Linked DNA regions of Homo sapiens. The protein of the gene in region 2 purifies or fractionates together with the protein of the main gene of each other region. This does not show direct contact. Each region holds a gene or a part of one and is shown on either strand. Other genes may lie near its edges.

What was found. The genes of interacting proteins can lie anywhere in the genome.
Region 1: the proteins of ERGIC1 (region 2) and INA purify together in Homo sapiens (affinity purification with mass spectrometry; 3 studies listed by BioGRID and IntAct, with this or other methods). This does not show direct contact.

What each region holds. Positions count from the first base shown.
Region 1 is NC_000010.11:103,287,138-103,290,846, forward strand, and holds the end of INA (alpha-internexin), read left to right. Parts: coding exon 1-22; intron 23-1,222; coding exon 1,223-1,532; 3' UTR 1,533-3,209; downstream 3,210-3,709. UniProt on the Homo sapiens protein: Class-IV neuronal intermediate filament that is able to self-assemble. It is involved in the morphogenesis of neurons.
Region 2 is NC_000005.10:172,830,304-172,837,373, reverse strand, and holds the start of ERGIC1 (endoplasmic reticulum-Golgi intermediate compartment protein 1), read right to left. Parts: upstream 3,124-7,070; 5' UTR 2,961-3,123; coding exon 2,941-2,960; intron 25-2,940; exon of another isoform or gene 1-24. UniProt on the Homo sapiens protein: Possible role in transport between endoplasmic reticulum and Golgi.

The DNA.
Region 1 (3,709 bases), on a different chromosome or scaffold from region 2:
ACATTGAGATAGCAGCTTACAGGTACTGCAAAGGACCTGCTTACCCGAGTAAATCCAGTCACCTAGGGGCAATGCTGCCCAAATAAGTGGATCTAGTCTCTCTGGCTTCTGACTGGTGAGGGAGGGAAGAAGGGCATCACTGGCCCCTTTCAGGTGAGCTGACTGCTCTGTCCCTCTACTTAGATATAATCCAGCTCCATCTGACTAGTCCCAGAGTATTCTGTGTACCTCTGAAAGGATTTAAGGGGATAATGTGAGTACACAGAGGTTAAAATAAAAACCCATGAGACTCGTAACTTTAAAAATAGGGTTTGGGGCCAAGTGCAGTAGCTCACTCCTATAATCCCAGCACTTTGGGAGGCCAAGGTGGGTGGATCACTTGAGATCAGGAGTTCAAGACCAGCCTGGCCAACATGGTGAAACCCAGTCTCTACTAAAAACACAAAAATTGGCCAGGCGTGGTGGCACACACCTGCAGTCCCAGCTACTCTGGAGGCTGAGGCAAGAGAATCGCTTGAACCTGGGAGGTGGAGGTTGCAGTGAGCTGTGATCATGTCACTGCACTCCAGCCTGGGAGACAGTGAGACTCTGTCTAAAAAAAAAAAAAAAAAAAAAGGATAATTAAAAACTATTAAGAGTTATGAGAAACATGGTTTGGGGCCACTCTTTTATAAGACTGTTTTCGTCACGCTGATAAAAATCTGTTATCTGAAACAGTGTCATTCACTGGTTTTTGTTATTGCTGGTTCTATTCCCTTTGTACCCGTATACACTGAAAAAGTACAAATCTCAAATCCAGGTTGAGTAAGACAGTTTCTACCACCTTTGTGGACATCTCACCTCCTTATCCCTATTGCAGCTAAGGTGTTACTTAGGAAAAGTACTTCTCCCTAGAGCTTTGTTGCTAATTGCCAAAAATGGGTGTGATGTGGCCAAGTGGAGTTGCAGGTTTTCCTCCTGGAATATATTTGTGAACAGGATAGGTTTTCCTTTGACAATGCTTTAAACATAGCTGGTGCTGAAGGGGGGTGTGTGTGTGCGCATGCGTATGCACGTGGTCCAACCCTTTGAGCTTTGAAATTAAATATTTATTGGTTTCAATCTCATGAAGAAACTCCAAAGTCCTTTGGAATCTCTCTCAAATGAATCAGGATTGGAGGGTTGAGTTCTGGGGGGGAAAAGTTATTGACTTCCTAAGAGTTTTTCTCTGTTGAATTTACAGGAAACTGCTGGAAGGCGAGGAGACACGTTTTAGCACCAGTGGGTTAAGCATTTCGGGGCTGAATCCACTTCCCAATCCAAGTTACCTGCTCCCACCTAGAATCCTCAGTGCTACAACCTCCAAAGTCTCATCCACTGGGCTATCACTTAAGAAAGAGGAGGAGGAGGAGGAGGCATCTAAGGTAGCCTCTAAGAAAACCTCCCAGATAGGGGAAAGTTTTGAAGAAATATTAGAGGAGACAGTAATATCTACTAAGAAAACCGAGAAATCAAATATAGAAGAAACCACCATTTCAAGCCAAAAAATATAATTCCATTGCTTTGAAAAAGTTAATGCTTAAGAGGGAATGATATGCATTTGACTTGTTAAACAGCCTATTCCTGAACTATAACACCTGCCACCACTATAAAATGTCTTCAAGGCTTCAGTCTCATATTTAGTATTGAATACTTACATTCTCTAATAAGAAAACCACCCCTTAGATTGAAGTAAACTGCAGTCCTGGAGCAATCACAGATGAGTTATCTAAGAATACAGCTTTCTGACCTTCAGCTCACGCTTCACAGTGATCGATGATTCAGGTGCAGAGGAAGTACAAACTAAGGTGCTAAATCTGCGATCATCGTCATTTGCTGTGAACTGAAATTAAAACTATTCATGCTACCCAGCCATTACCCAGCTAAATAATCTTACTCTAGATACCTAAAACATAAGATCACTGCCAGAGATAAACTAATGGTCCACACCCAATTCCACTCTGATAGAATTATTTCACAAATAATAGGTGTTTGTTTAATGGACACTTTTCACCTCCTTCAATTCCATATATCCTTTTCTTCTATGTAGGAAAAAAATAGTCTAGTGTAGTATTCTTCCCTTTTAAACACATTTTGGTTCTTCTCAAAAGAACTTACCCCCATTCGCGCTCTGCTCAGTGGGTAAAATTAGATGCATGTTGACCATGTCTATGATTCGTGTAATTACTTATCCCTGCCCATTTCATATTCTTTCAATTCTGTAGGTTAAAAAAATGGCAGTGATGAATTTTAAGGGTTTCCCCCAACATATAAAATAATGCAAAGAATCCCTAGACTTTAGGCTTTCAGCTTACACAAATCTATTTAATTAGGAAAAAAACTATTAAGGATGTAGCTTTTCACCTTTACTTTAGAAGCACAGTAAATATCCCAAACTGTGATGAAGCCGACCTTAGATTTAGTAGTGTAAGCTAGAAGAAGTGAGTGTTTCTATGAGTGGAAAAAGCCAAGGTGTCATTTATGTGTCAGTTCATTTGTGGTGATATAGAATTAGCTTTTTCATCCCCTTACCCTTAGAATCCACGTATTCCCCTTCCCACTAGCCTAGGTCATAAAGAGGCGTTGCTTTCACTCTCCTATGCCTTTTACGAGTGCTAAGTGTAGGATATTTTGTCACCAGAACACAATGCTACCGCCCCAAAGTAAAAGAAACCACTTCTGGTCAATCAACACTACCAGCGTATATATAAGAAAGACATCTTTCTCTTTTCTAAAAGACTTCCCTAACACTTACCCCATGGCTGCACAGTTGGTGGGGTCCTGCCGGAGAGGAAGAGACACTCAGACCAGAGAAGGGGTGTGCATGCGCCTACTCGCTTGCTAGAAGTAGATTCTGGACAGTCAGCTCTTCATCTGCCCAACTGTGTAGCATCTGCATTGCCCAGTCTTTCATGTGTGCCAAGGCTGATGCAGGATTTGTTCTCTGTCCAGCAGTCACTTCGGCCAGAGCTGAAGAGTTGCCCCGTCTCTGTTCCATGTCTCCTTTAAGAGCTCTGGTGATAAGGACATGATGCTTTTACTGAACTTTCTTATCCTAGCACATGCTTCAATAGTTCAAGGAACTTGAAAAATACTTTTCCTTACCTTTACCCCATCCCTGTCTTTACTCCTCACACTTACTGTAAGACATTAGTAACATAATAAATTAAAAGTCACACGAATCTCACCAACATAATTCGTGTTCTGTGGTTCCTGCCCTTTCACTGAGAGAAGCACTGTTTGGGTTCAGAGTCAGTCTGGCTCTGACTGATTTGTATCTTCTCTTTTTAGTGAGCCACCTTAATTGCCATGAACTTATTTATAGAAGAAAGATATTGGCCAAGCGTGGTGGCTCATGCCTGGAATCCCAACACTTTGGGAGGCCAAGGTGGGGGTGGTGGGGCAGATGGCCTGATCCCAGGAGTTCGAGACCAGCCTGGGCAACATAGGGAGACCTCATCTCTCAAAAAAATACAAAAATTAGCCAACTGTGGTGGCTCCTGTAGTCCCAGCTACTGGGGAGCTGAGGTGGGAGGATCACTTCAGCCCGGGAGGTGGATGCTGCAGTGAGTTGAGATCACGCCACTGCACTCCAGCTTGGGCAACAGAGTGAGACCCTATCTCAAAAAAAAGAAGAGTAACTTACAGAGTTGAAAAATGATTAATTCAGAATAATAGATAACATGGAAAA
Region 2 (7,070 bases):
AATAAATATGGCGGCCAAAATGGATGAGGCGCTTACTCTGTGTCTAAATGCTTTCCGCACTGCCTCATCCCTCAACTGTTCTACTTCGGTGAGTACTCTCCTCATTCCCATTTCACAGACAGGAAAACACAGAACTCAGTTGCACCAGGCTCTACAGGCAGTAAGAAAATCAGAAGTATCCGTAGGGAAGGGCAAGAGTGCACTATTTTTCCTGCTTCTGATTTTAAGAAGGGGAACACGAGCAGGACGGCTGGTTTTCTCCCTGGCCTTGAACTGGGGGAGGAGGTCTAATCACGGTATACCCCTCTCCACTCCCCACAATTCTTAAAAGAGCTGACAGGATGGTGGGCCCCTCCAATCTCTCCCTTTTCTCCCAGATCTAAGGCTTTGGAGCTAACAGCCCCAAGTTCAAATCCCAGATCCACCAGCTCATGCACTGCATGGCCAGAGCAAAGGGCTTCTACTCAGTGGAGCTCCCCTCTCCTTTGATTTAAAATGAAGATTAAAACTCCCTCTCTCAGGTGACAAGGGAATCGATGTCTGCACCCCAAAGTGTGTATACAGTGGTAGATGCTCCTTGCGTGCCAGTTCACGCACACCCCCACTCCTGGGACCCCATAAGCCCTCCTCCCTTCTCTTGGAATGCAAAGAGAGCCGGACCACATGCCACCCACCTCCTCACGGTGGGGCCTGTGGCAGAGGGCTGAGCATGGACTGGACACTTGATGAATGCTTGATGAATGCACACTGAAGCGGAGGAAGGTGCATGGGGATGGTCGAACCCTCAGTAGAACCCAGGTCCTGGAGCCTTGAAGTTCACAGAGCTTAAAGAGTGCAGGTTTGCTGGGCACACATGGCTCATCCTCCAAGGTGCAAACGTGAAGCACTGAATCCATTCTCACCATTCCGCAGTGAGCCCAAGCCCTGAGAGTATTTCCTAGTTAAGCTGGGCCCCCTGACACCTGGGCACTCAGGGACCTGAAGTATGCCAAGGGAGCCCCAGACTAGCCAGCTTCTCAGAGCTGAGCATTTCTCTCTTTAAATATCAATGCCTGACACAGGGCCCTTCCAAGGCCAAAGGCTAGAGCTGGCCTTACCCATTTTCCTTACTTCCCTTACCTGCCCCCACAAGCCACCAATTCAAGGAGCACAAGGTTGGGAGCCATGTGTGACCTGAGACCTAAGTCTACCCTTCCCATTTAGCACCCATAAAGTCCAAGATAAGGCCCTCATCCCTGGAGCCTCATTTCCTCCTTGGTAAGACGGAAGGGTGAGGTGCAGGGAGAAAGGATTAAAAGATCAAAAACAGCAATTTCCCCAGCAAGCTCAAAATCACCGGAACCTACTGAATCACACAGGGGCAGGGGGCGGCGGTGGCACGAATCCCTATGGTTGGCCTGGGTAAGGGGAGGCTTTGTGGAACCAGAAATTGATGTGCCGACCACAGCTCTTATGGCCCAGACTTAACTGATGCTATTAGGACTGACCTTGAATTCCACCAGAGGGGCTGTCCTTGTTCAAAACTGCCTAGGTCTGCTAGCCTCAGGGCTGCCCGGCAGGGGCAAGAAGCCGGCAAACATTTGCTAGCTGGTATCAGGGACCCGGACAGGCTGGAAAACCATGTCAACCAATCAAGAGGTCCAAGACCAGTGTCCTCTTTGGGCCTAAACCCCAATATATCCCATGCTATGGGGGTCATGGCAGGCTAAGGGCCTTTCTCTCTGGGTAGACTGTCACTTTACACTGCCTTCACATGCAAGAAGAGGGGAAGAAATACCTCCTGTGGCACAGGCATCTGAATCACTATTTTGTGGATGTGGAAAACCCCTCCTGGAGAACACCCCCCATCCACTAATGCCCTATTTCTGAGCTCTAAATCATGCCAGACTCTGCTAAGGGTGTTTCACGCACTCAGTCGTCACAAGCGGAGACCTTATTTTTAGCCCCAATTTGCAGGTGGTGAAACTGAGGGCGCTCGGAGACTTGCTGAGGTCAGCCAGCCGAGCGGCGACAGGGAGTTCTGAACCCAGAGCCTTTGCCCCTAACTTCTAGAATATACCGAGCTGTTCAGTAGAAAGGGCAGAGCCAGGATTCTAATCCAGCTCCTCCCTGCATTAAAGCCCTGCTCTTTTCCCAGCCAGACACCAAGTGTGGCTGCCTCAGGCCAGGACATCCCCTGGGGCTCCACACCTCAAGGGAACCTCTGGTGGAGATCTCTTCCCCCGCAGGCTTCCAGAATGCCCCATGCAACCTAGACCATGAGGCAGCTGGACCCCACAAAGGACCCATTGTGGTGACTGCAGAAAGCCAAGGCCAGACCCCGGTGGCCCTTCTGCAGAGTCCTGCCCAAGGCGCCTCCTCCCCTTCCCATGGTGCCCCCATACCCAGCGGACAGGGCTGGGGCTGAGGGAGGGAGGGGCGGGGGCAGGCCTCCCGATCTGCCCGGCCTGGGGGAGCCTCAGGCTATAGAAACTTAAAACCCTCCAGCTGCCGGCAGGCTGCATGGGGCCCCAGGCCCCTCCGGACTCATTCCAGGTGCCCTGCCCCACCTGTCAGCTGAGGTGGGGTCCACCAAGGAGGCTCAGTAGAGGGAGGAGAGGGATGCTGGGGTGTTATGGGCTGTTCCCATCTGGGAGGAGGGAGGAAATGTTTCCTAGTGTGGGGGAGGGGAATGCAAGGTATCCGGGCAGGCTGGGGAGGGGGCTCGGCGGAGGGAAGGTGGGTGGATTTGTCTCCCGCTGCACGAGGGGGCCTCCGCGGCTCTGGCTGGCTTCGTGTGCGGCAGGGGGGGGGCTCGCCTGGGGTCCCTAGGGGCCTGCGGAGGCATGCACAGGGCGGGGAGCCGCTTTTGCATGCAGGGCGGGAGGGGTCCGCGGCGTGCCGGGGCGCTCCCTCTGCCCGCTGAGGGAACTCCCGACTGGCCGGGGTCGCCACACTCACCTCCTGAAGTCAAAGGGCATCGTGCCGCCGCCGGGGGTGGGAGCGCTGCAGGCCAGGCGGGCCGCGGCGCCGCGTGGGTCCGAGCCCGCTGCCAACGCCTCCTCCGGCCGCCCCGCCCCCGCCGGCCGCCCCCCTGACACTCGCCACTCGCCACTCGCCACTCGCCTCCCGCTGCCGGGAAGTGACGCTCCGCGCAGCCCATTGGGCGCCGCCCGCCCGGCCGCCCCTTCCGCCACCCGGTTAAAGGGGCCCGCGGGCAGGCAGGGAAGGGGCGGAGAGTCGAGGCTGTCGGAAGGGAAGGGAGTCCCCCAAAGACTCCAGTACTCATTCCTTCAAGCCTCCCACTTAGATTTCCTTCTCCATCTCTTTGGATGCCCTCGGACAAATTCTCTGCTTCTCCGAGCCCAGTTTTTTGCATTTGTAAACAGTTTCACTGAACTGTGATTGAGTTGGGGGCGGGGGGCGGGGTGATACAGACTTTGGCCGTGCACAGCGTCTAGCTCTGAGTGAGGGCCTAATACTGTGGGGGAAGGGAAGAGGTCGGCCATCCTAGGCTGTTAAGGTGGACTCACCTCTGCCCCTGCCGTGTCTCTCTGGGAAAGCCACTGGGCTTCTCAGAGCGCCCCCCCCCCGCCCCGCCCCTTTTGCATATCTGCACAAAGAGGACGATGACACCTACTTGAGGGGGTTTTCCTGGGGATCAGCTGAGAAACAGGAGACTGGCTTAGCACAGTGCCAGGCACCTGAAACTATTGAGGCTGGCAGTGGCTGTCCCTGCTTCCATCTGCCCCTGTCGTTCACTCCAGTGGGCATTCACAGAGCATCTGCTCTGAACCAGGTCCATCGAGAACATGCAGGGTTGTGGCAGAGGCAGATGGGACCTGCACTGTGACTTGGCCAACGTGGACTGTGCCGATTGTCTCCTTCTTAGAGCCTCAGTTTCCTCCTCAGGAATACAGAGCAGCTGCCTCCGTGACTGCTGGATTAGAGGAGATGGTAGTTGAGGTCACACAAGACCTGAGTAGGGGAAACTCACTCTGAACTTCCCCGAGGTTCTGTCACTGGCCCTTTCTCCAAGGTTGTGGTGGGACAGGGCTTCAAAAAACCCAGGGGAGAATGGTGAGGGCTCGGGTTCCAAAAGCAGAGTCAATGGACAGTTTCCCCCTGTGTAAATAGAGGGGAACAGCAGTGCTGGTTCCTCCGGGAGGATTCAGAAGGGACAACACTAGCACGGGGTCTGGGGTAGGGTGACGTGGTGAACCAAAGCCTTCCCCTAGAGCATATGCCGGGACCTGACCTCTGCGTTCCCTTTTCATTCATTCACTCATTCATTCATTCATTCATTCAGTGTCAGTGGTCTGACACTGTTGGGGGAGAAAAGGAAATCTCAGCCTGAACTGGAAACCTAGGGACAGCAGGGAGAGTTAAGGGATCTTGAGCAGCCACTGCTTCCAAACAGCCATTCGTTGGCCCTGTGTGGGAGGAAACATGCAATGATGGATCTTTGACCTCGAATCCTCCCTCCTCAAACTGTGGTCCACAGACCAGCCACATGGCCATCACAGGACAGACTCTTGTCCCCAGGCCAGACCTACTGAATCAAGTGTGCATTTGGGATGATATCCAAGGTCAGCAAATGCCTGGCACAGAGTAAATGCAAGACAGGGTTGACTATCATTGCTCTTTTCGAGTGGGGATAGAGCTCCCAACTTTTGGCTGGGCATGTGGGTGCTCACAGTGAAAGTTGCATTTCCCCAGCTTCCTTTGTAGCTAGATGTGGCATTGAGAAGTAAAGGGAAGTGTCTTGTGGGGCATCTGGGATAGTTGGTATGTCTGCTTTACCCTCTGTGTCCCTTTCTCCATCTGGCTGCCAGGAATGTAGGCGTCACCATCCTGGACCATAAGGTGGAGGCCACCACAGAGCAGAGCAACAAGACAAAAAGAGCCTAAGTTCCTGCCGGGCACAGTGGCTCACACCTGTAATTGCAGCACTTTGGGAGGCCGAGGTGGGCGGATCACCTGAGGTCAGGAGTTCGAGACCAGCCTGACCAACATGTGGTGAAACCCTGTCTCTACTAAAAATACAAAAATTAGCCGGGCGTGGTGCCACACGCCTGTAATCCCAGCTACTCAGGAGGCTGAGGCAGGAGAATCGCCTGAACCTGGGAGGCAGAGGTTGCAGTGAGCCCAGATCACACCACTGCCCTCCAGCCTGTGCGACAGAGTGAGACTCTGTCTCAAAAAAAAAAAAAAAAAACCTGAGTTCCTGTCTCTAAGTGGCAAAATACCTGTCCTCAAACACCTGCCCAAGAGAAACAAACATCTATCTTATTTAAGCTATTGTTATTCTGTATTTTCAGACACTTACACCTAAACCCAATGCTGATACACCTATGCAGCCTGGCTAGCTACTTGACTGCCCCAATGCTCATGGACTAGGCCAGTCCCCTATTACATAATCGCATGGTACCTTGTAGGTTTCCTTGGGAGAACTGGGCATGACGTGTGATTAGGTTATTATTAATTCGCTAGTAACTACTACCCCATCTGAGTGAAAGTTCCCTGAGAGGGGCCTGTCGGGGGGTAGGGGGCTAGGGGAGGGATAGCATTAGGAGAAATACCTAATGTAGATGACGGGTTGATGGGTACACAAACAATGATGCCATACACAAATGGCACGTGTATGCCTGTGTGACAAAACTGCACGTTCTGCACATGTATCCCAGAACCTAAAGTATAATTTAAAAAAAAAAAGGAAAGTTCCCTGAGACAAGGTGGTATCACCATCATATCCTAGCATCCAGCCAGACCCTGCACATGCTGGGGATGCACTAACTATGCGTTGAAGTTTGAATAGAGGCTTCCCAGGGAGGCAGGCCTTCCCACGGAGGCAGGCCTTACCAACAGAACAGCGGATGGGAGGGGAGGTATCAACATGGGCCTCCGCTGTGGGACTGGTGAGGTCTGTGAGCAGACCAGGCTGTCAGTCCCAGATGGTCCATCCACTCAAGAGCCAGTGGGAGATGGAGCTAAGAAAATCAGATTGTGTCTGCAGTACGTGGGAAGGCTCTGGGTCTCTTTGAGCAGGGAACAACAATACAAGTTAAGTTTTCGGATTATCAATCTTGTGGAAGCCTGTGGTAGGTAGCCAGCCTCCAGTGACCCTGATCTCCTGGTATTCCCATGCCCTTCTAGAATCACCTCCCACAATGAATAGGGCTGACCTATCCTGTGTAATCAACAGGATATTGCAGAAACGACAGTTATGACTCCTGTGGCTACGTCACAAAAGACTGAGGCTCTGCTTAGCCACTCTTGAATCACTCGTTCTGAGGGAAGCCAACTGCCTGTCCTAAAGAGGCTCAAGCACGATTATAAAGGGGCCTGGTCGGTGAGGAATGAGGCCTCCCACCAACAGCCATGTGAGTGGGCTCTCTTGGAAGTAGCGGCTCAGCCCCGGTCAGGGCTTCAAAGCTGCATCCCCAGCCCACAGCTTAACCACAGGTTCTTGAGAGACCCTGAGAAACACCCAGCTCAGCTGCTCCCGAATTCCTGATCCATAGAAACTATAAGATAATAAATGTTTGCTTTAAGCCATTAAGTTGTGGGTAATTAGTTACACAGCAGTAGATAAATAACAGAGACTCCATCCTCATTATTTTTTTTTCCTACCAGTAACTTCTCCCTGCCTTCCTCCATCTCACCCCCCGCCAGCCTGGGGAAATAGAAAACCACTTTGGACTCAGATCACTCTCTGCTGGGTGACCTGGACCAGTTGCTTAACTAGCTGGGTGTCTAGGTATGAAATGAAGGATAATAATACCTTACCTGTGGCAGGTAGCCTCTGAAATTGTCCCAATTAACCCACCTCTTGGTATTCATACCCTTGTGTAATTTCCTCCCTTCAAGTGTAGGCTGGACTTATGGACTCATTTCTAATGCACAAAATATGGCAGAAGTGATGAGCATGTTGCTTCTGAGATTAGGTTATCAAGAGATGGTGACTTCTGTCTTGGACACTCTCTTGCTATCTCTTGGATCAGTCACCCTGGATAAGCTGGCTTCTGTGTGTGGCTTCTGTGCCCTAAGGAAAAGCCCCTGTGGGTGAGTTTGCAAGTGATTCTTCTAAG